Homo sapiens: one gene and its partners. The protein of the gene in region 1 interacts with the protein of each later gene in a pairwise test. Each region holds a gene or a part of one and is shown in the gene's direction. Other genes may lie near its edges.

The links.
Region 2: the proteins of CCDC59 (region 1) and MAGEA8 interact in binary tests that used the Homo sapiens proteins (3 or more experiments, as listed by UniProt).
Region 3: the proteins of CCDC59 (region 1) and NKX2-1 interact in binary tests that used the Homo sapiens proteins (3 or more experiments, as listed by UniProt).

What each region holds. Positions count from the first base shown.
Region 1 is NC_000012.12:82,355,001-82,363,234, reverse strand, and holds the start of CCDC59 (thyroid transcription factor 1-associated protein 26), read left to right. Parts: upstream 1-4,847; 5' UTR 4,848-4,858; coding exon 4,859-5,012; intron 5,013-5,965; coding exon 5,966-6,275; intron 6,276-8,234. Other genes in the region: METTL25 (probable methyltransferase-like protein 25), read right to left, coding at 4,411-4,669. UniProt on the Homo sapiens protein: Component of the transcription complexes of the pulmonary surfactant-associated protein-B (SFTPB) and -C (SFTPC). Enhances homeobox protein Nkx-2.1-activated SFTPB and SFTPC promoter activities.
Region 2 is NC_000023.11:149,877,064-149,884,304, forward strand, and holds the start of MAGEA8 (melanoma-associated antigen 8), read left to right. Parts: upstream 1-4,119; 5' UTR 4,120-4,222; intron 4,223-5,304; exon of another isoform or gene 5,305-5,435; intron 5,436-6,007; exon of another isoform or gene 6,008-6,286; intron 6,287-6,758; exon of another isoform or gene 6,759-7,009; 5' UTR 7,010-7,071; intron 7,072-7,146; 5' UTR 7,147-7,209; coding exon 7,210-7,241. UniProt on the Homo sapiens protein: Not known, though may play a role in embryonal development and tumor transformation or aspects of tumor progression.
Region 3 is NC_000014.9:36,516,864-36,524,903, reverse strand, and holds the start of NKX2-1 (homeobox protein Nkx-2.1), read left to right. Parts: upstream 1-4,671; 5' UTR 4,672-4,774; coding exon 4,775-4,851; intron 4,852-5,224; exon of another isoform or gene 5,225-5,533; coding exon 5,534-5,919; intron 5,920-6,883; coding exon 6,884-7,626; 3' UTR 7,627-8,040. UniProt on the Homo sapiens protein: Transcription factor that binds and activates the promoter of thyroid specific genes such as thyroglobulin, thyroperoxidase, and thyrotropin receptor. Crucial in the maintenance of the thyroid differentiation phenotype.

The sequences.
Region 1 (8,234 bases):
AAGTTTTTTGCCAGTGTTTCTGCTAGGATCTCTAGGTCTCCCAGGCATGTGGAGTTAAGAGATCATTTGGGGATTCAGGCAGCGTTTATACTCAGATCTTAGATCTCAGACCTTTTGTATCTCCTGTTTCCAGAATGTACGTCTTAAATTTGCACCTGCTCCGATCTCTGAATTTTGCCATCACCACCTTGACCTGGTAAGGATGTGGTATTCCACTGCTAGATCTACAGGGGCTAGGAGCATCTCTAGCAAGAAAGCCATAAACTCTGACTTCCTACCCAATCAATCACAGTCTTTCAATAGTAACCTCTTCTTATATTTCTGCCTTTGGCATTTTCCAGAATCTTACAGTTGTTTTTAATAATCTGGCCAGTTTTCATCATTGTTATCTGCAGGGGAATCTGACCTCTTCAAGCTACTGTTCCTTGAAATGTCCCTGGACTATTTTAATAGCCTCTTATATTGTATTCCTGTTTCTTCCCTTAATTTCCTTCACCTTTCTTACCTTCTCTTCTCCACACAGAAACCAGGTGATTTGAAACATAAATCACACGGTATCACATCACCACACAAAATTCTCAAAGAGCTTCGCATTTCACTCAGAATAAAAGCCAAATACTGAGTACAGCCTACAAGTTTTATGTGAGGATGTCCTGGGCTACCTCCAAATGCCATCTCTCACCGGTCTCACCAAGACTGCTCAGCTGTGTTTAAAATGCACCAAGCGTGCTCCAGCTTGGGCACCTGCTGTTCACTTCACGTGAAAGATATCCCTTTCTATATATTAGCTGAATTACCTTTCACAGTATCCCATCAGGCAGGTACTAAAGTTACCCCCATTTTACAGATGAGGAACTAATGTACAACGAGTTGAAGTAAATTGCCCAAGTTAGCACAGCTACTAAGTGCTGGAGTCAATATTTGACCCCAGGAAGTCTGTCTGGAAAGCCATAATTTATGCACTGAAAAGATAGTTATTTCTAACATATTTGCTTTTTATTTTAGAGAATTAAATATTTTATTCTAGTTCTTTTTAGACGAACAATGAAGAAGAAACTCTTAGGACTCTAATGAGACAAGAAGATCACCTGGCACATGAAACCTACTGAAATGGACACACTGAGGACTTTTAGAAAAAACTTTGTTCCATAAAACACCAAATGATTGTGCCGAACATCTGTTAGTGTGCTTTTCCAAACTGTGCATTGCGCTCTGGGAATTATGTTTACTTGTAACTCCTCACAAAATATCAGCAGAAGACTGAGAGGTGACAGCGTGCCGGCAGCCCTCACTCGCTCTTGGCGCCTCCTCAGCCTTGGCGCCCACTCTGGCCACGCTTGAGGAGTCCTTCAGCCCACCACTGCACTGTGGGAGCCCTTCTCTAGGCTGGCCGAGGCTGGAGCTGGCTCTCTCAGCTTGCAGGGAGGTGTGGAGGGAGAGGCACGGGTGGGAACCAGGGCTGCGCGCCACGCTTGCTGGCCAGCGCGAGTTCCGGGTGGTTGTGGGCTTGGCAGGCCCAGCACTCAGAGCAGCCGGCCAGCACCGCTGGCCCCAGGCAGTGAGGAGCTTAGCACCCAGGACAGCAGCTGCGGAGGATGCACCAAGTCCCCCAGCAGTGCCGGCCCACCAGCGCTGCTCTTGAATTCTCACCGGGCCTCAGCTGCCTCCCTGCGGGGCAGGGCTCAAGACCTGCAGCCCGCCATGCCTGAGTCCCCCTCCCCCCCACCGTGGGCTCCTGCGTAGCCCAAGCCTCCCCAACGAGCACCGCCTCCTGCTTCACAGTGCCTGGTCCCATCGACCGCCCAAGGGCTGAGGAGTGCGGGCGCACGGCATGGGACTGGTGGGCAGCTCCACCTGCAGCCCCAACGTGGGATCCACTAGGTGAAGCCAGCTGGGCTCCTGAGTCTAGTGGGGACTTGGATAAACTTTATGTCTAGCTAAGGGATTGTAAATACACCAATCAGCACCCTGTGTCTAGCTCAAGGTTTGTAAATGCACCAATCAGTGCTCTGTGTATAGCTGATCTAGTGGGGACTAGGAGAACTTTCATGTCTAGCTCAGGGATTGTAAATGCACCAATCAGCACCCTGTCAAAATGGACCAATCAGCTCTCTGTAAAATGGACCAATCGGCAGGATGTGGGTGGGGTCAGATAAGAGAATAAAAGCAGACTGCTGGCGCCAGCAGCGACAACCCTGTGGAAGCTTTGTTCTTTCACTCCTTGTGATAAATCTTGCTGCTGCTCTCTCTTTGGGTCCACACTGCGTTTGTGAGCTGTAACACTCACCGCAAAGGTCTGCAGCTTCACTCCTGAAGCCAGCGAGACCACGAACCCGCCAGAAGGAAGAAACTCCGAACACATCCAAACATCAGAAGGAACAAACTCTGGACACGCCGCCTTTAAGAACTATAATACTCACTGAGAGGGTCTGTGGCTTCATTCTTGAAGTCAGTGAGACCAAGAACCTAACAATTCCGGACACAAGACCATACTCCTTGTGAGTCCCTAGTGGAAATCTATTTCAGTCTCCTTACAGCTCCTTAAACATACCTTGTAGGCTCCCTCGTCAGGGCATTTCTGTTTCCTGTTGTCACTAAATGGACTGCTTTCCCTCCAGAGATCTTCATGGCTCGGTTTTTTTCTTATCTTTTCAGCGTTAGAGTCACCTCAGTGAGGTCTTGCCAGGACAACTTACTTAAAAATGCAAACATTTTCCTCTTCTTCCCCTTACTTACTCCTCCCTTATCTAGTATACTTTTTTTCTTACAGCACTAAAAAAGTTTCAAATCAGATGACCCAGGTTTGAGAATCTTCCATTATCAGCTATATCCCTTGCAAATTAACTCCTCAAGTTATAATTCCACAAATCGACAATAACAGAACCTATCTTGCAAGGCTGATGTAAAGATTAAAAGAGAAAATACACATGAAGACACTTAGCACACTACAGGGTATATAGTAAATATCAAATAATCCAATTATTATTAGAATATGTAAGACAATCTGACTCTACCATTGTCTGGAGACCAGGCTAAACACGTATTAAAGTCTTACACTCTAAACTTGAGAGTAGTTTCATTTTATTTATTTAAAACTAACATGAGTAACTCATTAATTCCTCCATTCAACAAATATTCATCCAGTATCTAATGTATGCCAAGTATTTTACCAAGTGCTGGGAATACATCAGTTGACAAGTCAGACAAAGACTCTGCTCTTTTGGAGTTTAAGTAAAATTGTCATATCATAAGTGCCATATATTTATTATGAGAGCAAACTGAAGAAGTGCCTAACTTTTCAATAACAATTACTTAAAAAAACAACAACAGTATTTACCAAGTGCTATTATAAGAGGTCCCTCTAGTGATGCTTTGCATTCAGAGAATGCTCAATGAATAAAGTTCACTAGTAAGGGTAACTTTGGGAAGTCTAGAAGGAAAGTAAAAATCCCAGAAGCCTGTTGGTGTCCATCATTCTACTTCCAAAATATGCTTGCCTGAGAAGAATCTACATTTCTTGAGGGTAGGAAAAGCTTGAGCCTACAAAAATTCAAGACACATATTAGGTACTTTAAAATAGTTTTTAAATGAAATAGTGACTATCCGAATACCATCCTAGTCCAAGATACAATCATCTGTTGTACTACTGAGGTAGTCTCCTAACTGGCCTCTCAGCTTCAGCTTTTGCCCTAGTCTATTCTTCAAATAATTCACAGTTATCTTTTCAAATGTGAATTAGGTCACTATGTTGCCTAAATAATCCCAAGGGTTTCCGTCACACTTAAAATCCAAAATCCTTCCAAGGCCTAGAAAGGCCTGTGCCATCTGGCCTCTGCTTGCCTCCCGTCCTGCACCTGCAGCCCCTCACCTGGCTAGAGCCAAGCCTAGCCTGCGGTTCCCACCGCCTGCAACCCCTCCCTGTGGCTCTGCAGCTAGTGCCTTCTCATGTTCCTGACCTCCTAAATTGAGGCAGCCTCCTTACACAATCCCTACCACATTACACTGTTTTTATTTTCTACTTCATTACCACCACTTGAAATTATCTTTATTAACTGTTGAGTAATCTTCCACCACATGCTGGCATTTATAAAACCTGTGAGAGCACTGCTCCCCTAGTTTCCCTAGCGTCAATTATTATGGAATTACTAGATGAAGGAACTCCCCTGCCCTGTTTCCTGCTTTCTTTAAATTGTGGACATACACAAGCACCCAAAGAAAGAGTGATCCTGATTCCAAAGAACATCCCCACCCCACCCCTCAACTAATCCGACCCCTCCTCGGTTTCCCAGCGGGCCGCCCCGCCTCCGCCGCCACGCACCTGGTTCTGCTGGCTTCCACCAGGGGGCTCGCTTCGTCTGCCGGGACCTTCTCCTCCGCCTCCCTTCCCGCCCCGCCTACCCCACCACCCACCTGCTTCCCACTCTGCTTCCACTAGGGGGCGCGTCTCTGAGGGCAGGGCCTCCGTCTCCGACGCTGACTTCCTCAGCGCAGCCAGCACTGTCTCCGGTGGCAAGTCGACCAGCTCCTCCCACACGGATTCTGTGTAGAAATCCACGGTATGTGCATTGGAAATGGACAGGGCATCCCTCAGGAACTGCAGCAGTCCCTGCAACTTGGCACGCAGCGTGGGCAGGTCCGGGGTCACCGGGAGAGGGCAAGAAGCCGCCATGACGCTCACCCTCCGAGGCTGTAGGTGGCGCAAACATGGCCGTGAGGCGCCAGCTCGGCCCAAATTAGCACAGGCAGGCTCAGTAGAGCTCCGAGCCGGATTCCTTCTGAGCGATTGATTGCTTCGGCTTGGTGACGTATTTTGTGGGCGTCCGTCGTGGTCTTCTGATGACGCAGTTAGTCGGCTGCAATGGCGCCGGTGAGGCGGTCCGCGAAGTGGCGGCCTGGTGGTATTGAGGCGCGTGGTGAAGGGGTTTCCACTGTCGGGTACAGGAATAAGAATGTGAGACAGAAGACATGGCGGCCTAACCACCCGCAAGCCTTCGTGGGGAGCGTTCGCGAGGGTATGTAAGAAGGCAACCATTTGCAAATCCTCAGGCTTGCTAAGTTTTAGGATATAAGATTCGCTGAAGCTTGGAAGAAGGATTTAGGAACCAGACCCGGTCCTACTTGGGGCAAGGGAATTCATTCCTGAGCCCGCTAAAGCTGTGAGCTTCGCAGAGCTCTAGATAGGAAGACGGAGCAGTGTTGCTATTATTTAAACGTCTTTTCTGACGTAACCCTGTATTTCATCAGAACTTTTTTCCTATATTTTTCCTGAGAAACTGAGCAGAGAGAGTCTATGACCCTGTGAACTCTTGCGCATGTGGTAAGGTAAAGGATAGAGAGGAGGACAGGGCCAGAAACACTGCTCCGAATTCTTCCTTATTACAAATACCCGAGGCCCTCCAGCCTTCGCTTTAATTTGTGTTTGTCATTTTGTATTGCTGTCTGTAAGGTCTCTTAGATCCCACTTGGAATATATAAATGTTAAATTCAGTCTTCCGATAATTGCTAGCTTTTCAGACAACCATACACTGTCTTTTTCTTTCGTGTTGAAACATTTTCGAAAACATGTAGTTTGTCCAAGATACTAGATGTGGCATTTTCTTTCCTATTTTTTAAGCATTTATTGAAGGCTCAGATTAAGTGTTTTAGATGAACTAAGGAATTTGTTTTGATTTGTGAATACAGCTGTAAACTCAAGTTGTGCAACAGTCTGAACTGGTCAGTTTTTCTTTGAGATTCTTACTTGGATTTCCGCATGACTGTTAGCCTGGTCTTTTTGCAAAGGGCCAACTTACTATGCAATCCATCAGCTTAAATTTGTTGCTTGAAATAATTTTTTAAAGCAAAATATAATACTAGAATCTGAATGTGATGACGTAAAAAAAGTTTTCATTTGTAATTAACAGCTCCATTCTTCGTTCAACTTCTTTTCTCTGAAAGTAATTTTGGATGATATTCCTCAATGTAGGACAAGGCTTTGCTTTTCGAAGAAAACTGAAAATACAGCAAAGTTACAAGAAATTGCTACGGAAGGAAAAGAAGGCTCAAACGTCACTGGAATCTCAATTCACAGATCGATACCCAGATAATCTGAAACATCTCTATTTAGCTGAAGAGGAAAGACATAGGAAGCAAGCAAGAAAAGTCGACCATCCTTTGTCAGAACAAGTTCACCAGCCGTTGCTTGAAGAACAGTGTAGCATTGACGAGCCTTTATTTGAAGATCAGTGTAGCTTTGACCAGCCTCAGCCAGAAGAACAATGTATTAAAACAGTAAAGTATGTATTTTCTTCATTTGAAATCCTTTAAGTGTTGTTTTATTATTTAAAAGTACTATAGGATAATTTATATAGGAATTGTATTTTTTCTTATTTAACACATTTTAGAAGTCACGGTTTAATTAGGGAAACATTTTCATGGAGGCTCTATTTTTAGCTTCAATAACTGAATTAGGCTGGTTTAGCCTAATTGACAAAGTAACGTAATGGGAATTAAGAGCTCTGGAATTTGGGTTTCTTCCTCTCAAGTACAGGTGGTAACTTGATTGGACCATATGTTATGACTATATTTTTGAAAAATAACTTCTGAGAGGTGTTATAATTTTAGTCATTAACAGTATGGGTTCTAGAGCCAGACTCAACATGTTAGTGCCCCAGTGACCTCTTCTTTAAAATGGGAAAAATAACACTATGTCCTCTTTAAATTGGGAAAGATAATACTGTAATGAATATATACTTCAGAGCTGCCATGTTGCACAGCTCCAGAATGGATTACTCACATAAACTCAGGTGTTCCTAAGGTGTTTCATGACATTGTTGTGAAGACTCAGCGAGTTAATGTATATGAGGATCTTAAAGGGTATATATGGTACGTGGTTAGTGCTCTTGAGCGTTAGCTACTACTATTAATCTGGATTTTCTGCAGAGGACCAGAAATGGGTTGCAATTGCAAATGCACAGCTCCGTGACGCTTTGGTTTTATAAGAGTTAACTTATAAAAAACTATCGCTGCATACTTAAAGTTAAAAAACAATGCTAAAATCTAAAATTGCAAGAAGCTGGGTATTAACTTGGGAGCATAATTTTTTACTTCATTAAAACCGTATCTTTTAAAGTCGTGAGCTATTTGCGCTAAAAATAACAGGAAATGGGACCACGGGGGGTAAAAATGTAATTGGGGATGAAGGCAGAGACACAAAAAGTTTACTACTTTTGGTAGGCTTGATCATTATATTGTTAAATAATCAGTATAAAGTTCAGGGAAAAGATTAGCAGTAGAAATGTAGATTTGAGTTATTCTCTGATAATTGAAGTAAGGAAGTTTAAATCATGAGAAAGGAAGGTAAAAAATCATGCTTTTAAAGATTACGGTTTATTTTGGGGTGGAAACAGGGAAAATATTGTCATTGAGGAAGTTAAGCTTTTCAGGACTGGAGAAAGAGAAATACAGTGACAGCTCAGTCCACAGAGAAAAGTTGTGAGGGATTAGTCAGCTATCAAATATTGTGGTCCCCCGTTATCTGTTTGGAAGATGTTCCAAGACCCCCAGTGGATGCCCTGAAACTGCAAATGGTACCAAACCCAGTTTCTGTCAATTGGAATGTATTTCTGTTAATGTCTTTTACTTGGGAATTTAATGCCTTTTCCATCTTAAATCACGTACTGTGGCCATAACTTTTGCAGTTTGAAGTATGACAGCAAAACTAGCATGAATTTATTTTTCCTTCACAATTTGATGTATAGAAGATTTTTTTTAAAACCATAGATCTTAGCAACTTCAACATACGATTTTTTTTCCTTCCTTATTAAGTCAAGAACTTTTACCTTTTCACTTAAAGCAAACACTCAGTGTGGTGTACAATTTAAAACATATGAATTGTTTATTTCTGGAATTTTTCAATTTAATATTTTTGGACCTCTGTTGACTGCAGGTAACTGAAACCGTGGAACAGGGAAACCATGGATAAGGGGTGTGCTACTGTACTATAAAGTTGAAGGTGAATAGGACTGAGGACAGGTCTCTGGATTTGTGGACTAGGCAGTCACTAGTCACTAGTCCAAAGTCGCTAGTGATTAGTAGCTATTAAAATATTATATTGTAGTTACAGAGTATAGTGAAAAGTTGAATGATAGAGGAAAGTAAAGTTATTACTGAATCAAGGATGCTGAGGAAATGAATGGAATTCCAAGTAGTTGGATTAGCCTTGACAAAAAGGACATCTTCAGAGAGGTGAGAAG
Region 2 (7,241 bases), on another chromosome or scaffold:
ACCTGTGGAAGTTAGTCTCTGGGACCGAAGTTAAAAGAAACTGTACTGAAGCAGTATTGTCTGGCTTCTAAAGCTATTTCTCACAGGGACTGGGTTTAAGAATTCTGATTATAGATATGTGTATATACACAGGTTAATATACCAAAATATATATCTTTACTCTGAGAATTGAGGTGGCTAGGAATAACAAATCCTCAGGAACAATGAGCATGCCAAGCACCCACCTCTCACATTCCAATACTCTTCTCCCATAAAAGGAAGCAGAAACCATGGAAAATTGACTCTTCTATGACTGGAACAGGAAATATAAAAATGAGCCTGCATCATCTTGTCATACCATAAAGTAAGACAGAGCTACAAACAAATGTAATGGCTCAGTTACGTGAAGGGGACATCAGAGCCAACTGAAAGAGCTTCCAATGGACAAAGATGGAACAATCTGAGCAGCAAAATAAAAGTGGTGTTGAATTATAACCCCAAACATATAATAAATTACCATGAGTTCAGCCGAGACAAATTGAAGGTTAAATAAATACAAATAATGGGGGAGAATAAACAAATCTCCCATTGAGAAGAATCCCAAATCATTCATGTCAATACTACCCCTTCCCAAGAAGGTGGACCATACTTCCCTACTACCCAATGGCTGCCCTTAGTGACTTTCTTTTATAAAGCACAATACAGAAAGGGGGGAATGTAATAACCTTGCAGAGGGAAATCCTGACAACACTACCTCAGCCAGTTCATCAGTCAACATCAACAGCGATGAGTCATGTTGCTAAAATATCGTGTAATGAGAATGGCATTTCGCCTCTCTGGTCTCCTACCCCAAAGCCATTACTCAAGTCTATATATGAAAAAACTCAGACAAATACCAAATGAGGGTAATTCCACAAATAGCCTGATCGATACTCCCCAAAACTGTTAAAGTCATCAAAAACAAGAATAGTCTGAGAAACTATCACAGCTTAGACTAAAGTAGCATGGTATCCTAGATGGGATCCTCAAACAATGACAGGAATGTGCAGGTGAATATTGATTTATGAATTATGAAGAATGTATCATATTATTGCATGATGTTAATAATAGGAGAAACTGGACATGATGTATAGGAAAACCCTCTTAACTGTCTTCGCAACTTTTCTGTAAATTTAAAATTACTCTAAAATGTTTACTAAAAAAAAAAAAACACTTAAAGGAATGGGGAAAAAAGCCAAAAATGGGGAGAAAATACTTGTAAACCCCGTGTCGGATAAAGGATTCATATACTGAATGAATAAACACCTTATAACATGCAACCACATAAAAATGAAGAGTCCAATAAAATAGTAAATGATTTCAAGACTTCACCAATGAAGATACACAGATCACAAAAAAGCATATGAAAAGATGATTACCATAATTATTCAATAAAAATACAAATGTAAACAGCAGTAACATTCTTCTACCCACCTGTTACAATTGATACAATGCAACAACCTGAAAATACCAAATTGTACAAAAGATGTGGCATTCTCTTTCATTGCTGGTAGAGAAGAAAAAGAACACATTCACTCTAGAAGGGGCTTTGGCTATTTCTAATATAGCAAAACTTAGACTTACCATTACACACAGCAATTGTACTCCTAGGTTTTATCAAGGAAAATTGGAAACAGGTTCATACACACAAAATCACGTACACAAAAACATATATAGCAGCTTATTTGAAATTGACAATCAATACTTTTTCCAATTGGTGAATGGATAAAACCAATGGTACGTCCACAAACTGAAAATGTATTTAAAGCTCAATCCACCCTCTACCGTTCTAAGGCAGGCAGTTTTGTGGGTCAGTTCCCCCAAGTGGTCAGGGAAAACGAATCACCATATTAACTCTTCCAAATAATCCCAAAATACGGGCAATTATTCAACGAATTCTCCAAGGCTCCTTCTCCTGCATTGGGGGGGAAAAAAAGATAAAGACATCCAGCCTTTATAAAAAGAACATATGAGCCAAGTGTTCACTCATATTGCAGCAAATGTCCTAAATAGATAATTGTATATTCAACACAACAGTGGACTAATGAACAAGCAGCTCGTATGCAAGGAATAAAAATACAGAAAAAGCCTCTGAAATGAATTTTATCATATTTTCAAATTAACATTTTTAGCAAATGAAGATTAAAAGGCACTTTAATTTTCTAAAACTGACAGGAAACATACTTGAATGTGAAATGTTAGAAGCATTCCCATTCTCGTCAGGAGCAAGTCATTGATGTATGCTTTCACTGCTACCGTTCACAGCTGCAGTGAATGCTGAAATGAAAAAGAGAGCTATGGATATCAAGATGAAAAAGAGGTATGAAGATTGAAAAGAAATAGATCATATTTTTCACAATATGACCATCAAGAAAATTCAAAGGAAGAGACACATGGAACATTCAAATGAATAAGAGACTTCAGAAGACAGCATACAAAGACCACTGCAGCGAATACAAGAGACTTGTCACAGATGAGCAACTTAGAACATAAAATGAAAAATATACCATCCCCAACAGCATTTAAATCCAAAATATAAAGAAGAAGAAGCCTAACCAAAATATGCAAGACATTTACAGAAGCAACTGTACAAGTTTGCTGACAGATTCAGAGAAAAAATTCCCAAATAAATGGAGTAGTATATGATGTTCACTGATGAGGAATAGAATACAGCAAAGGTGTAAATCTTACTTAAATTAAATAAACAGTTAATGCCTACCTGTAGCTGCCAAAGTGACAATCAAGCCCAGGCTGCTGTGCTCTACTCCCAAAATCAACTGTGTAAAAATATAGAAGGGAAAAAGAAAAATAAAACAACAATATCAGCAACAAAGTCTAAACAACAAAACATAGAAAACCCTGGGGAAAAAACTGTGTTGAACTGGTACTTGTGTTCTGGGCAGTTGGAGAGGCAGGGAGGTTGAGGAGGTCTGCAGCCACTGCAGACGACAGGGTGAGTTGCAGGAAAAGTTTTAAAGGACCACCCCACATCAATGTAGGATCCGAGTCTGCACCTCAAAACACGAAGCCAGTAGCCCAGGGGTAATATCAGGACACCAGGAAAATTGGATTGATTGAGACACCATGGCTCCAGAATTCTGCTAATAACAACTAGAAACAAAGAGTAGGTTAGGACTACCTTCCAAAATACTATTATTTTAATCAAATATATATAATGAACTAGAAATAGAATAGTATGAGTGAATCACACATTGTATGAGTAGATATTGTTTGATAAAATAAGTACGTATAGTCGACATACATATATGTATAAATATATGTAAAGATATATACACATACATTCATATAATTACACATATATAATATAAACATATACATACATATGTGTTTATGCATATAAACATAAATATAATGCACATATACAATTGGCATAGATTTAAAATTCGTTTCTTACTATACGAATGCGAATTAAATTATGAAAATCACTAAAGTGGAATAGGAATTGTTAGGTAACTTCAAAACTCAGGACTTCCACAAATTTATTGCAGCTACTCAGTTTCTTCAGTGTAAAAATAAATCATTTAGTACAAAAGTTTTGCAAAATCCTCTTCTAGCTGGGGAAGAGCCCCCGTGGGAAGGTGTGCCTCTTCTCCCAGAGGTCACTACAATCTTAGGTGCTGCAAACCCACAGGGAGAATCTGGCCTGGGACCCGCAGCCATTCTCTGCAAGGGGTGCAGCTGTGCAAATGCTCAGAGGTGACAGAAACAGAGTATCTCCTAAAAGAGCCAAGAGTCAAGAAGAGGACCCTCCTGAGTGAGGACTGAGGGTCCACCCACACCACATAGAGGGGCCACATAATTCAGCTCAGACCCTCATGTCAGCCCTGAAAGACCCCAGCAGCCTTGTCCCCCCACCACACCCTTCCCCCCACTGCCACCTCAGGGGACTCGGAATCAGAACCTTGGTCTGAGGGAAGCAGACACCATCAGCAGAGTACGGAGCTCCAGGCTCTGCCAGATCTCAAAGTGAGAACCTTGAGGGATGACTGAACCGCTCCTCCCTCATCCCCCGCCCCACTAGAATCCGGTTCCGCCCCTGTTGTCCACCCAGGTGAGCCCTGGGTGGACGGATGTGACGCCACTGACGTGGCCGCGGGGATCAGAGAGAAGCGAGGGCCTGGTTCTGAGGGGTCGGCTTGAGATCGGCTGAGGGAAGCGGGCTCAGGGTCTGTGAGGAGGCAAGGTGAGACCCTGAGGGAGGACTGAGGAGGCCCCCACCCCTCATATAGGACCCAAAATAATCTAGCGCCGCCCCTGCTGCCAGCCCTGGACCACCAGGGGGCAGACTTGTCTGGCTGGGCCACCCCTCGCCAGCCCTGCGCTTAAGCCCCAGGGGAATCTGGAGTGAGAGCTTGGTGTGACCAGAGCAGGGCTGGTTAGCAGAGGGCAGGGCCCAGGTTCTGCCAGGCATCAAGGGCAGGACCCTGAGGGAGGGCTGAGGCTCCACAGAGCACATCTCTGCCCCTACTGTCAGCCCTGGGAAGCCCTAGGCATGGCGGCCGGGCATGGCGGCCGGGCATGGCGGCCGGGCATGGCGGCCGGGCATGGCGGCCGGGCATGGCGGCCGGGCTCGCTGATTCTGACGTCCGCATCCGGGGCTGATGCAGCAAAGGGGCTTCATGAGCACGGACTCAAGAGGAGCAGAGGGAGGGCCCAGGCTATGCTGGGAGATGAGGAGGCCCGAGGGGACCCAGGACCCCAGGACAGGGGGCCCACCCTACCTGTCTGAGACTGAGGGGCCTCCACATTTGGCCTCAGGAATCCGAGGGACTGAAACTCAAGTCAGCAGGGGGGTGGTGAACAGCCCTGCCAGGAGTCAAGGAGAAGAAGAAGAGGGAGGACTCAGGGGTCCTTGGACTCCAGATCAGTGGAGATCTCAGCCTTGGGAAGTCCCAGGATCTGTGGCTGCATGTGGCGCATCCTTGCTGCATTTTCAGGGTGTCAGAAAGGAGACAGCTGTGGTCTGAGGAGTGGAGTCTCAGATCACTGGAGAGAGGTGCCCCAGAGCCCTTAAGGAGGACTCAGCAGACCTCCCATCATGGCCTAGGAAACCTGCTCCCACTCTCAGGTCTGGGCACCCAAGGCAGGACAGTGGGGAAGGGATGTGGCCCCCCCACTTTCTGGTAGGGGGCCTCAAGGAGATGGTGGCCTTGGCATGCAAGACACATCCACGGTTCAGCAGGAAGGAAAGGGCCATGCCTTGTCGTGGAGTAAATATGAATACCTGGATGACACCCAGACAGAGAAAGACCCCATGAAACCTACTACTTCTGTCAGCCGTGGGAATCCCATGCAGGGTTGTCCATGTAGTGCCTCCTTACTTCTGCCTCCTGGGTCTCAGGGAGGTAGCAACCTGGGTCTGAAGGGCGTCCTCAGCTCAGCAGAGGGAGCCACACCTGTTCAACAGAGGGACGGGGTCACAGGATCTGCAGGACCCAAGATGTGCTCACTTTGTGATGAATGGGGGTACTCCTGGCCTGGAAAGAAGGGACCCCACAAAGTCTGGCTAACTTTGGTTATTATCTCTGGGGGAACCCGATCAAGGGTGGCCCTAAGTGGAGATCTCATCTGTACTGTGGGCAGGAAGTTGGGGAAACGCAGGAAGATAAGGTCTTGGTGGTAAGGGGAGATGTCTGCTCATATCAGGGTGTTGTGGGTTGAGGAAGGGCGGGCTCCATCAGGGGAAAGATGAATAACCCCCTGAAGACCTTAGAACCCACCACTCAAGAACAAGTAGGGACAGATCCTAGTGTCACCCCTGGACACCCCACCCAGTGGTCATCAGATGTGGTGGCTCCTCATTTCTCTCTTGAGATCTCAGGGAAGTGAGGACCTTGTTCTCAGAGGGCAACTCAGGACAAAACAGGGACCCCCATGTGGGCAACAGACTCAGTGGTCCAAGAATCTACCAAGAGTCTAGGTGACAACACTGAGGGAAGATTGAGGGTACCCTCGATGGTTCTCCTAGCAGGCAAAAAACAGATGGGGGCCCAACAGAAATCTGCCCGGCCTCTTTTGTCACCCCTGAGAGCATGAGCAGGACTATCAGCTGAGGCCCCTGTGTTATACCAGACTCATTGGTCTCAGGGAGAAGAAGGCCTTGGTCTGAGGGCACTGCATTCAGGTCAGCAGAGCGGGGGTCCAAGGCCCTGCCAGGAGTCAGGGACTCAGAGGACACCACTCACCAAACACACAGGACCGAACCCCACCCTGCACCTTCTGTCAGCCATGGGAAGTGCAGGGAAAGGTGGGTGGATGGAATCCCCTCATTTGCTCTTCCAGTGTCTCCTGGAGATAGGTCCTTGGATTAAGGAAGTGGCCTCAGGTCAGCCCAGGACACATGGGCCCCAATGTATTTTGTGTAGCTATTGCTTTTTTCTCACCCTAGGACAGGACACGTGGGCCCCATTGCATTTTGTGTAGCTATTGCTTTTTTCCCAGGAGGCCTTGGGCATGTGGGGCCAGATGTGGGTCCCTTCATATCCTTGTCTTCCATATCAGGGATATAAACTCTTGATCTGAAAGTTTCTCAGGCCAGCAAAAGGGCCAGATCCAGGCCCTGCCAGGAGAAAGATGAGGGCCCTGAATGAGCACAGAAAGGACCATCCACACAAAATAGTGGGGAGCTCACAGAGTCAGGCTCACCCTCCTGACAGCACTGGGGTGCTGGGGCTGTGCTTGCAGTCTGCAGCCTGAGTTCCCCTCGATTTATCTTCTAGGAGCTCCAGGAACCAGGCTGTGAGGTCTTGGTCTGAGGCAGTATCTTCAATCACAGAGCATAAGAGGCCCAGGCAGTAGTAGCAGTCAAGCTGAGGTGGTGTTTCCCCTGTATGTATACCAGAGGCCCCTCTGGCATCAGAACAGCAGGAACCCCACAGTTCCTGGCCCTACCAGCCCTTTTGTCAGTCCTGGAGCCTTGGCCTTTGCCAGGAGGCTGCACCCTGAGATGCCCTCTCAATTTCTCCTTCAGGTTCGCAGAGAACAGGCCAGCCAGGAGGTCAGGAGGCCCCAGAGAAGCACTGAAGAAGACCTGTAAGTAGACCTTTGTTAGGGCATCCAGGGTGTAGTACCCAGCTGAGGCCTCTCACACGCTTCCTCTCTCCCCAGGCCTGTGGGTCTCAATTGCCCAGCTCCGGCCCACACTCTCCTGCTGCCCTGACCTGAGTCATCATGCTTCTTGGGCAGAAGAGTCAGCGCTACAA
Region 3 (8,040 bases), on another chromosome or scaffold:
TCAAGACGAGTTGAATCTTGGCTTGAACTGCGTGACAGGAAAATAGGCAAGTTTGGAGACCACAGGTGTTAACTTCTAGTGGGGCTTGACCCGACAGAGGAGCAGATTCTTCAACACCAAAGGCCTAAGGGCCGGACTCTCTTCGCGGACTCTGGCCCTCATAGACGCGCCCTCGCCTCCCATACCCTCCGTAGAGCATGCCTGTGAGGGAAAGGGAGAAGCAGAAGCCGCGCTCGGATGACTTGGCGCCCCACCCCCCAGCCTGCCCACAGGCCACGAATTGAGAAAAGCTTTCCCAAAAGGAAAGTCCTCTCAAAGGCCCTAGACGGTCAAATCGGGAAAGGGAGCAGTAGAGGGATCCTTCCTCCCGCTGCGTCTGTGAAAGCCGCCTGTCTGCACGCCCCGGGCTCCCGCGGTCCCTCCCGAGGATTTCGGTTCTGGTGCCTGAGAAAGCAGCGCAGAGGGGGCCCTGCGAGACCCCTCCAGAGAAATCATCCCCCGGAGGCATTCCTCGGATCTTGGGGTTGCGGAGCAGCGCCCCCCAGCGCCCAGTTACACTCCTGCCTTCCGCTCCCTGCGCCTGGTTGCCTCGATGGCACTCGCGAGCCCAGCTCAGCCCGGCTTAGAAGCCTGTGCCTAGCTGTGGGAGACTGCGGGAGCAACTGAGGGGCCCAAGTGTTTCTTGTTGAAGGTCAGAGGCCTAGAGTCACAGTTTCTCTAAATCCAAAATACAGAATCAGAAGGAATAACTCCTTCTATTAGCGACTTTTGTGATCTACAAACTCAGGCACATGATCTCATCCTGAATTGTTTGGATCCCTAGCACAAACCAAGCCAGTACACAGGGCAGGTTGTGACCATTTTTTACAGCTCAGGAAACAGGTGCTCGGAGGCTGTGTTTCCTCAGCGTTTCTCGAGGCACTGGGGGGTTCAAAGATAGATAAAACAGGGGCTCACCCTCAAGGAGGGAAGCCAGAAAACACACACTGGTTTACTCTGGCTGTGATGGGAGTGACTCCAGGGTGTGGCGGGAGCCCACAAGAGCGGTACTGCACAGCTGGAAAAAGGCAAAGCCAGGGTTCAAACCTAGGACGGACTTCCACTCAAGGACTCCTCTCACGACCTTGGAATGCTGAGAGATCAAGAAATGGTGCAAAAACCCACACACGAATCTCCATTACAACCCTCTCTATCTCACTGGATCCTAGAGTAACATCTGTCAGAAAGTAACTACATATTATTTGGGTGATTTATTGTGAATGTGTAAGTTCCGTGTGAGTAGGAGCTGCATCTAGATTAAGTTTGAATTTTCAGGCCTTGCGTAGTCCCTGGCACAGAGCCCTAGCTGAATAAATACTGTCGAGTGAATCAAAAATTGCGATAAAACTTGGAGCAAAATAACACTACCAGGAGACAGAGTGGCTCAGCGCCCTAAACAGGTGTGGAGGACCACAAAGGGAGTTAGAAAAAGCAGTTGGGGGGTGGGGCGGTGAGACAGGTGGTTCCTCCTCACAGTTCCACCTGGTCCAAGCTACAGACCCCAAATTAGCCTTCTTTTGTATGAGCCCTCTGTTCTTGTCTCGCAAAGTGACACTGGAGGGAGAGAAAGGAGTTTCCCTGCGGCCACGCTGGTGTAAGCAAAGGCTGATGGCGATTCCGCGCATCTAGGGCCGAGCCTGGGCCTGCGCCCCCTCGGATTCCTGGCGGAGCCGCAGCCAGCGAAGCAGAGCGTGGTCGGAATAGAGGCAGCGACCGTGTGAGGTCGCGCCAGGGAAAGCTCCGCGAGGGGCCAGCGTTGGGCCCTGCCCTGCCCTGACCGCTCCCCACTGTGCCCACTCCACCCGGGAGCAAGCTAGTTGCGGGATAAAGGAATACGCGCAGACTTCGCAAAGTGCAATCGGGGTTCTTCGTATTCATGGAAAAAAAAATCACTGGTTTAGCCCGGGTCTGCCCTATTTAGGATGAGTCCAGGAGGCGGCGGAAAGAAAGGACGCTCTTCGGTCAGAGGGAGGTGTTTCGGGCCATGGGAGGGACTCTGGAGGCCTTTGCTTGGATAAGCTTGGAGATACAGATGTCCTTCTCTTCCCTACAAGGTGCGTTAGTCTCCGGGCTTATTTTCGGCAGTGCAGTGGTACTGGGGAAGAAGGCAGAGCCGCGTGTTGAGAAGGGGCTAGGGTAGTAGAGGCGCTGGAGCCTGGGCGGCAGGGCGCTGCAAAGGCCCAGGCGAGGTGGATAGAGAGCTTGCTGGTGCGCGCGAGAAGCACGCCTGCAGGCAGAGGTTGAAGCGCCGTCCCAGTTGTGTCCCAGAGTGAAGCGGGAGTCTTTGCCCGCCCCAGCCACTTCGAGCTCCACTCCAGTTCAGCTCCCAGAGTCGCCACTTGCTGCGCGGTTGTTGGGGAGGGGGTTCCTGGTCCAGAACGAGACGTGGGGGGCTGGGGGTTTCCTCGAGAACTGCAGGCCTGGTTGCCCCCGGACTGTCAGAGCCGGAGGCCGGGGAGCTGCCAGCCACGTGCGCCTGTGGCCTGCTGAGAGGTTGAAAAGCTGCCAAGGGACGAAGGCCGAGAAGACAGGACCTAGGGGCTGTGGAAGATTCACCCAACTCTTCCTTTTACTCAGGTCTTGGGACCTAAGAGGGGGTGGGGATAGTCATGATAATAACTACCGCAATCTCCAGTGCTGGCACTGAGCTGAAAAACATTCAAAGCTTTCAAAGCATTTTGATGTGCTTCATCTTACTTGAATCTCACAAAAACCTTGTGAAGATTGATCTCCATTTCTAAATGGCGTTGAGACTGGAAGAGATGTACAACATTCTACACTTGGTGTTCCTTAAACTTACAAACAACTATGAAATAATGGCGAGTGAGAGAAAGAAGCTGGGTGACTGGGAAACCCACCCCGCCTTCGCAATTAGACCCCATTCGGGACTCAGGCCCGGCCAGGTCGCGCCTGCAGACAAGGTCTGTATTCAGCGTTGCCAGTTCTCCTCTGTGGTTCGCTTAAGCCCGGCGTCGCCTCCCCTCCTTGCTTAGCCACCACAGTGATCAATGCTCAGTTCGTCGGGGCCTGAGAGCGCCCCCCAGAGAAGCCCCTGGGAAGGAAGGGCAAGGAGCCGGGCTTCGCTCTGGTCTTTCGCAACACCAGCGGCGAGCGCGTCTCCCTGCGCAAACGTAGGGTGGCCTCCCCAGCTCTGCCGTGGGGACCGCACAAAAACGCGGGCGCAGGTGGGAGGGCGGAGGGTGTCCTGAGCTTTCTTTACCCTGGTAAAGAAGGTAGGCGGTGAGAAAAGCGAATGTTATTATAGAAGTTGGCTTTGTATTGAGGGAGTAAGAGCTCTCTTCAAGGAGAGGGCTGAAATCTTTAAAAATAAATAAAACTTTCTCTACTGTAATTGCTATTAATAAAAAAAGGGAGCCCGGATGAATTAAGTAGCTCAAAACTGCCTGTTCGTCATGATCAGGAGCTCCTTCTCTACAAGGAGGGGAAAGAAAATGTGAAAACAAAAACTAAATTCAAGAAGCTCCTTGACCAGCGCGGGTGTCTTGGAGGCACCTGCCGGGGCCGGCCGGGGAGCGCTCCGCCCTCCCAGCCCCTGGCGCGCAGAGGAGACTAAAACAGCTAAGGAGAAAGCAAAACAAAAACAATGATAAAAACGTTTAAAATCCAAGGACAAAAACCGGAGTCGGTCTCAAAATCCGCGCCGTTCAGTGCTCCACTCGGTAGTCGACTCGGCTGCAGGCCCCGGCCTGGCCGGAGCAACGCGGGGGACACCCCCGATTCCGCTGGGGAGCGCAGCCCACAGCTCCCCCTCGCCAGGCGCCCAAGGACCCTCAAGGCGCGGGGCCCACACTTGAAGCCTGGGAACGCGCAGACAGGAAACCCTCTTCCTCCTAAGCAGTTTCTTGCTCGTCGGATGAGAGGCGCCCAATTGAAGCAGAATGATCCTCATCTACTAATATCCAGCGTGGCCACAAAGCGACTGGCCATTTACGCCACCACTTTAAACAAAGATATTTGGTTATTCCCGGGAAGCAAGAGCACTTTTGCATGGCTGAGCTGCGGGCGGAGGCGAGCCTCGGCCCAGCCTCCCGCCCGCTGAGCTGCCCGCACCTCGGCATTCGCCCCCTCCTGGCCAGCGCTCCAGCCGCCGGGGTTCAGGCTCAGTTCCGCCCGGCAACAGACAGACGGGCACTCACGCCGCTCCCTGCTCGCGCGCTCCCTGAAGCATCAGAGGGGAAAACAGCGTGGCTCTGGGCTCGGGTGCTGGGGCTGTGATGTCCTCGGAAAGTCAGCTCCAGCCCCAGATCCCCGCGTGTCTGGGAGATGGGCGAGGGTCAGGGACACCAGGTTTGTTCGAGGTGGGGCAACTTCAGTGACGGACCCTCCCGTGAGACCCCTTCCCATCCTCCCAGCTCTGGGGGCCAGTGCTGTGTTTGCTCGGCCGGGGGTGGGGGGGGGGGGGGAAGACCTTGGGGGAGGCGTGTTAGCGGGGGTGGCCCACTGAAAAACCCCTGAGCTGCGGGGGCGGGTTGTGGCTCGGGGATCCGGGACAGCCTCCGGGAGGCAGTCGATCCCCTACTCAGCGCCCCCTCCGCCCGCTCGGATTCTCTCCGGTAGGGGGAAAGGGGGCGGGGAGCAGAGGTGTCCCTCTGACGGCGGCAGAAGAGAGGCAGACAGACTGACAGACACGTAGACCAACAGTGCGGCCCCAGGGTTCGTCCCCAGACTCGCTCGCTCATTTGTTGGCGACTGGGGCTCAGCGCAGCGAAGCCCGATGTGGTCCGGAGGCAGTGGGAAGGCGCGGGGCTGGGAGGCCGCGGCGGGAGGGAGGAGCAGCCCCGGCAGGCTCAGGTGAAACCCCCACCCTGTCCCTCAGCCCCCTCCTCCTAAAGACCTGTCCGTGCCCGGGGAACCCCGACCGAATTGGAAAGTGGTTCCACTTTGTAACTCCGCAAGTTGGTTGCAAAGCAGCATTCACCTTCCTTCCTCTCAACCATCTCTCCTCCTCTGTTACTCCCCCACCCCACCTCCTGCCCTCCCCGCTCTCGGTTCCCTCCTCCTTCCCCTCCCCTCCACCTCCTCCCCGCGCTCCGCTGGTACCCCACAAAAAATGGGGGTGGGGGTGTCCAAGGGAGGGGGGAAATGCTTTGGGTCTCGTCTCTGCCTCTCTCTCTCTCTCTTTGAGACCTAAAAATCCTGACAAGTGAAACTTAAAGGTGTTTACCTTGTCATCAGCATGTAAGCTAATTATCTCGGGCAAGATGTAGGCTTCTATTGTCTTGTTGCTTTAGCGCTTACGCCCCGCCTCTGGTGGCTGCCTAAAACCTGGCGCCGGGCTAAAACAAACGCGAGGCAGCCCCCGAGCCTCCACTCAAGCCAATTAAGGAGGACTCGGTCCACTCCGTTACGTGTACATCCAACAAGATCGGCGTTAAGGTAACACCAGAATATTTGGCAAAGGGAGAAAAAAAAAGCAGCGAGGCTTCGCCTTCCCCCTCTCCCTTTTTTTTCCTCCTCTTCCTTCCTCCTCCAGCCGCCGCCGAATCATGTCGATGAGTCCAAAGCACACGACTCCGTTCTCAGTGTCTGACATCTTGAGTCCCCTGGAGGAAAGCTACAAGAAAGTGGGCATGGAGGGCGGCGGCCTCGGGGCTCCGCTGGCGGCGTACAGGCAGGGCCAGGCGGCACCGCCAACAGCGGCCATGCAGCAGCACGCCGTGGGGCACCACGGCGCCGTCACCGCCGCCTACCACATGACGGCGGCGGGGGTGCCCCAGCTCTCGCACTCCGCCGTGGGGGGCTACTGCAACGGCAACCTGGGCAACATGAGCGAGCTGCCGCCGTACCAGGACACCATGAGGAACAGCGCCTCTGGCCCCGGATGGTACGGCGCCAACCCAGACCCGCGCTTCCCCGCCAGTAAGTGAGGCCGCCCCACTGCGGGGCCGCGGGCTGAGCTCAGGAGGTGCGGCGAGAGCCGTCCAGAAGGCGCGGCGCCGGCAGGCTGCGCGCTGGGCATCAGGGAGGGCGGCCCGGCAGCGGCGCCAGGGACTTGGGTGCGGGAGCTGGGGATGCTTCCCCCTGCTCGGCTGGGGGTCCAAGAACAGGCACTTGGTAGCGCTGGGGTCCTGCGGTCAGATGCGGGTACTCGGCGTCTCCTAGGCGCGGTGGACTGGCAGCTCTGCTCGGCGCAGAAGACCTCGGGGAGCCAAGGGAAGCGACCCCGAGCTCAAGGAGCAGGGGCGAGCAGAGCGCGGAGAGGCTAGACCGGGCCAGGAGGGAGGCTGCCCTGTTGGGAGGCACTCGAGCGCCCGGCCCGGCCCTCTCTCCAGCGGAGTCTGGGCAGGTGGGAGGACTCGCAGTTCCAGAGGGGACTCTAAGGGTCCGAGCAGGTGCCCTCACTGGGGCCTGACAGGAGAGAAGCCAAGAGGCAAAGCGTCTGGGGGCTCCAGCTTTTGGAAGTCAACACCCCCTCTCCTAACCTCTCCAAACTGGGGTCTACCGTAGGACCCCAGCTCCCGGCCTGAGCCCAGTTCGCCGCCTGTGGCCAGCTAATCCTAATGCTCTGACCCGGGCTGGGCACGAAAGGAGCAGAAGCGGCCTTTCCCCCACTGCGTCTTTTGGTTCGAAAGAGGGAACTGAGACTGAGGGAGGGCAGCCAGGGTTGGGGCTGTGAGCGCTCCAGTACAGCCCCCTCGACGGTACGGCCTGGGGCAGGCGCTGGCAGTTCCCCGCGGATGGGCCTCTTGGGCCCCAGCGCTAGGCTGCCTGGGTCAGGAGGGCGCCGTCGGTTGGGGCGGGCCGGGCGGGCCAATGGCGCGGAAAACAGGGGTGGCCTGGCTCGGCCTGGCCCCGGCCGACGCTGTGCGTTTGTCGCTTACAGTCTCCCGCTTCATGGGCCCGGCGAGCGGCATGAACATGAGCGGCATGGGCGGCCTGGGCTCGCTGGGGGACGTGAGCAAGAACATGGCCCCGCTGCCAAGCGCGCCGCGCAGGAAGCGCCGGGTGCTCTTCTCGCAGGCGCAGGTGTACGAGCTGGAGCGACGCTTCAAGCAACAGAAGTACCTGTCGGCGCCGGAGCGCGAGCACCTGGCCAGCATGATCCACCTGACGCCCACGCAGGTCAAGATCTGGTTCCAGAACCACCGCTACAAAATGAAGCGCCAGGCCAAGGACAAGGCGGCGCAGCAGCAACTGCAGCAGGACAGCGGCGGCGGCGGGGGCGGCGGGGGCACCGGGTGCCCGCAGCAGCAACAGGCTCAGCAGCAGTCGCCGCGACGCGTGGCGGTGCCGGTCCTGGTGAAAGACGGCAAACCGTGCCAGGCGGGTGCCCCCGCGCCGGGCGCCGCCAGCCTACAAGGCCACGCGCAGCAGCAGGCGCAGCACCAGGCGCAGGCCGCGCAGGCGGCGGCAGCGGCCATCTCCGTGGGCAGCGGTGGCGCCGGCCTTGGCGCACACCCGGGCCACCAGCCAGGCAGCGCAGGCCAGTCTCCGGACCTGGCGCACCACGCCGCCAGCCCCGCGGCGCTGCAGGGCCAGGTATCCAGCCTGTCCCACCTGAACTCCTCGGGCTCGGACTACGGCACCATGTCCTGCTCCACCTTGCTATACGGTCGGACCTGGTGAGAGGACGCCGGGCCGGCCCTAGCCCAGCGCTCTGCCTCACCGCTTCCCTCCTGCCCGCCACACAGACCACCATCCACCGCTGCTCCACGCGCTTCGACTTTTCTTAACAACCTGGCCGCGTTTAGACCAAGGAACAAAAAAACCACAAAGGCCAAACTGCTGGACGTCTTTCTTTTTTTCCCCCCCTAAAATTTGTGGGTTTTTTTTTTTAAAAAAAGAAAATGAAAAACAACCAAGCGCATCCAATCTCAAGGAATCTTTAAGCAGAGAAGGGCATAAAACAGCTTTGGGGTGTCTTTTTTTGGTGATTCAAATGGGTTTTCCACGCTAGGGCGGGGCACAGATTGGAGAGGGCTCTGTGCTGACATGGCTCTGGACTCTAAAGACCAAACTTCACTCTGGGCACACTCTGCC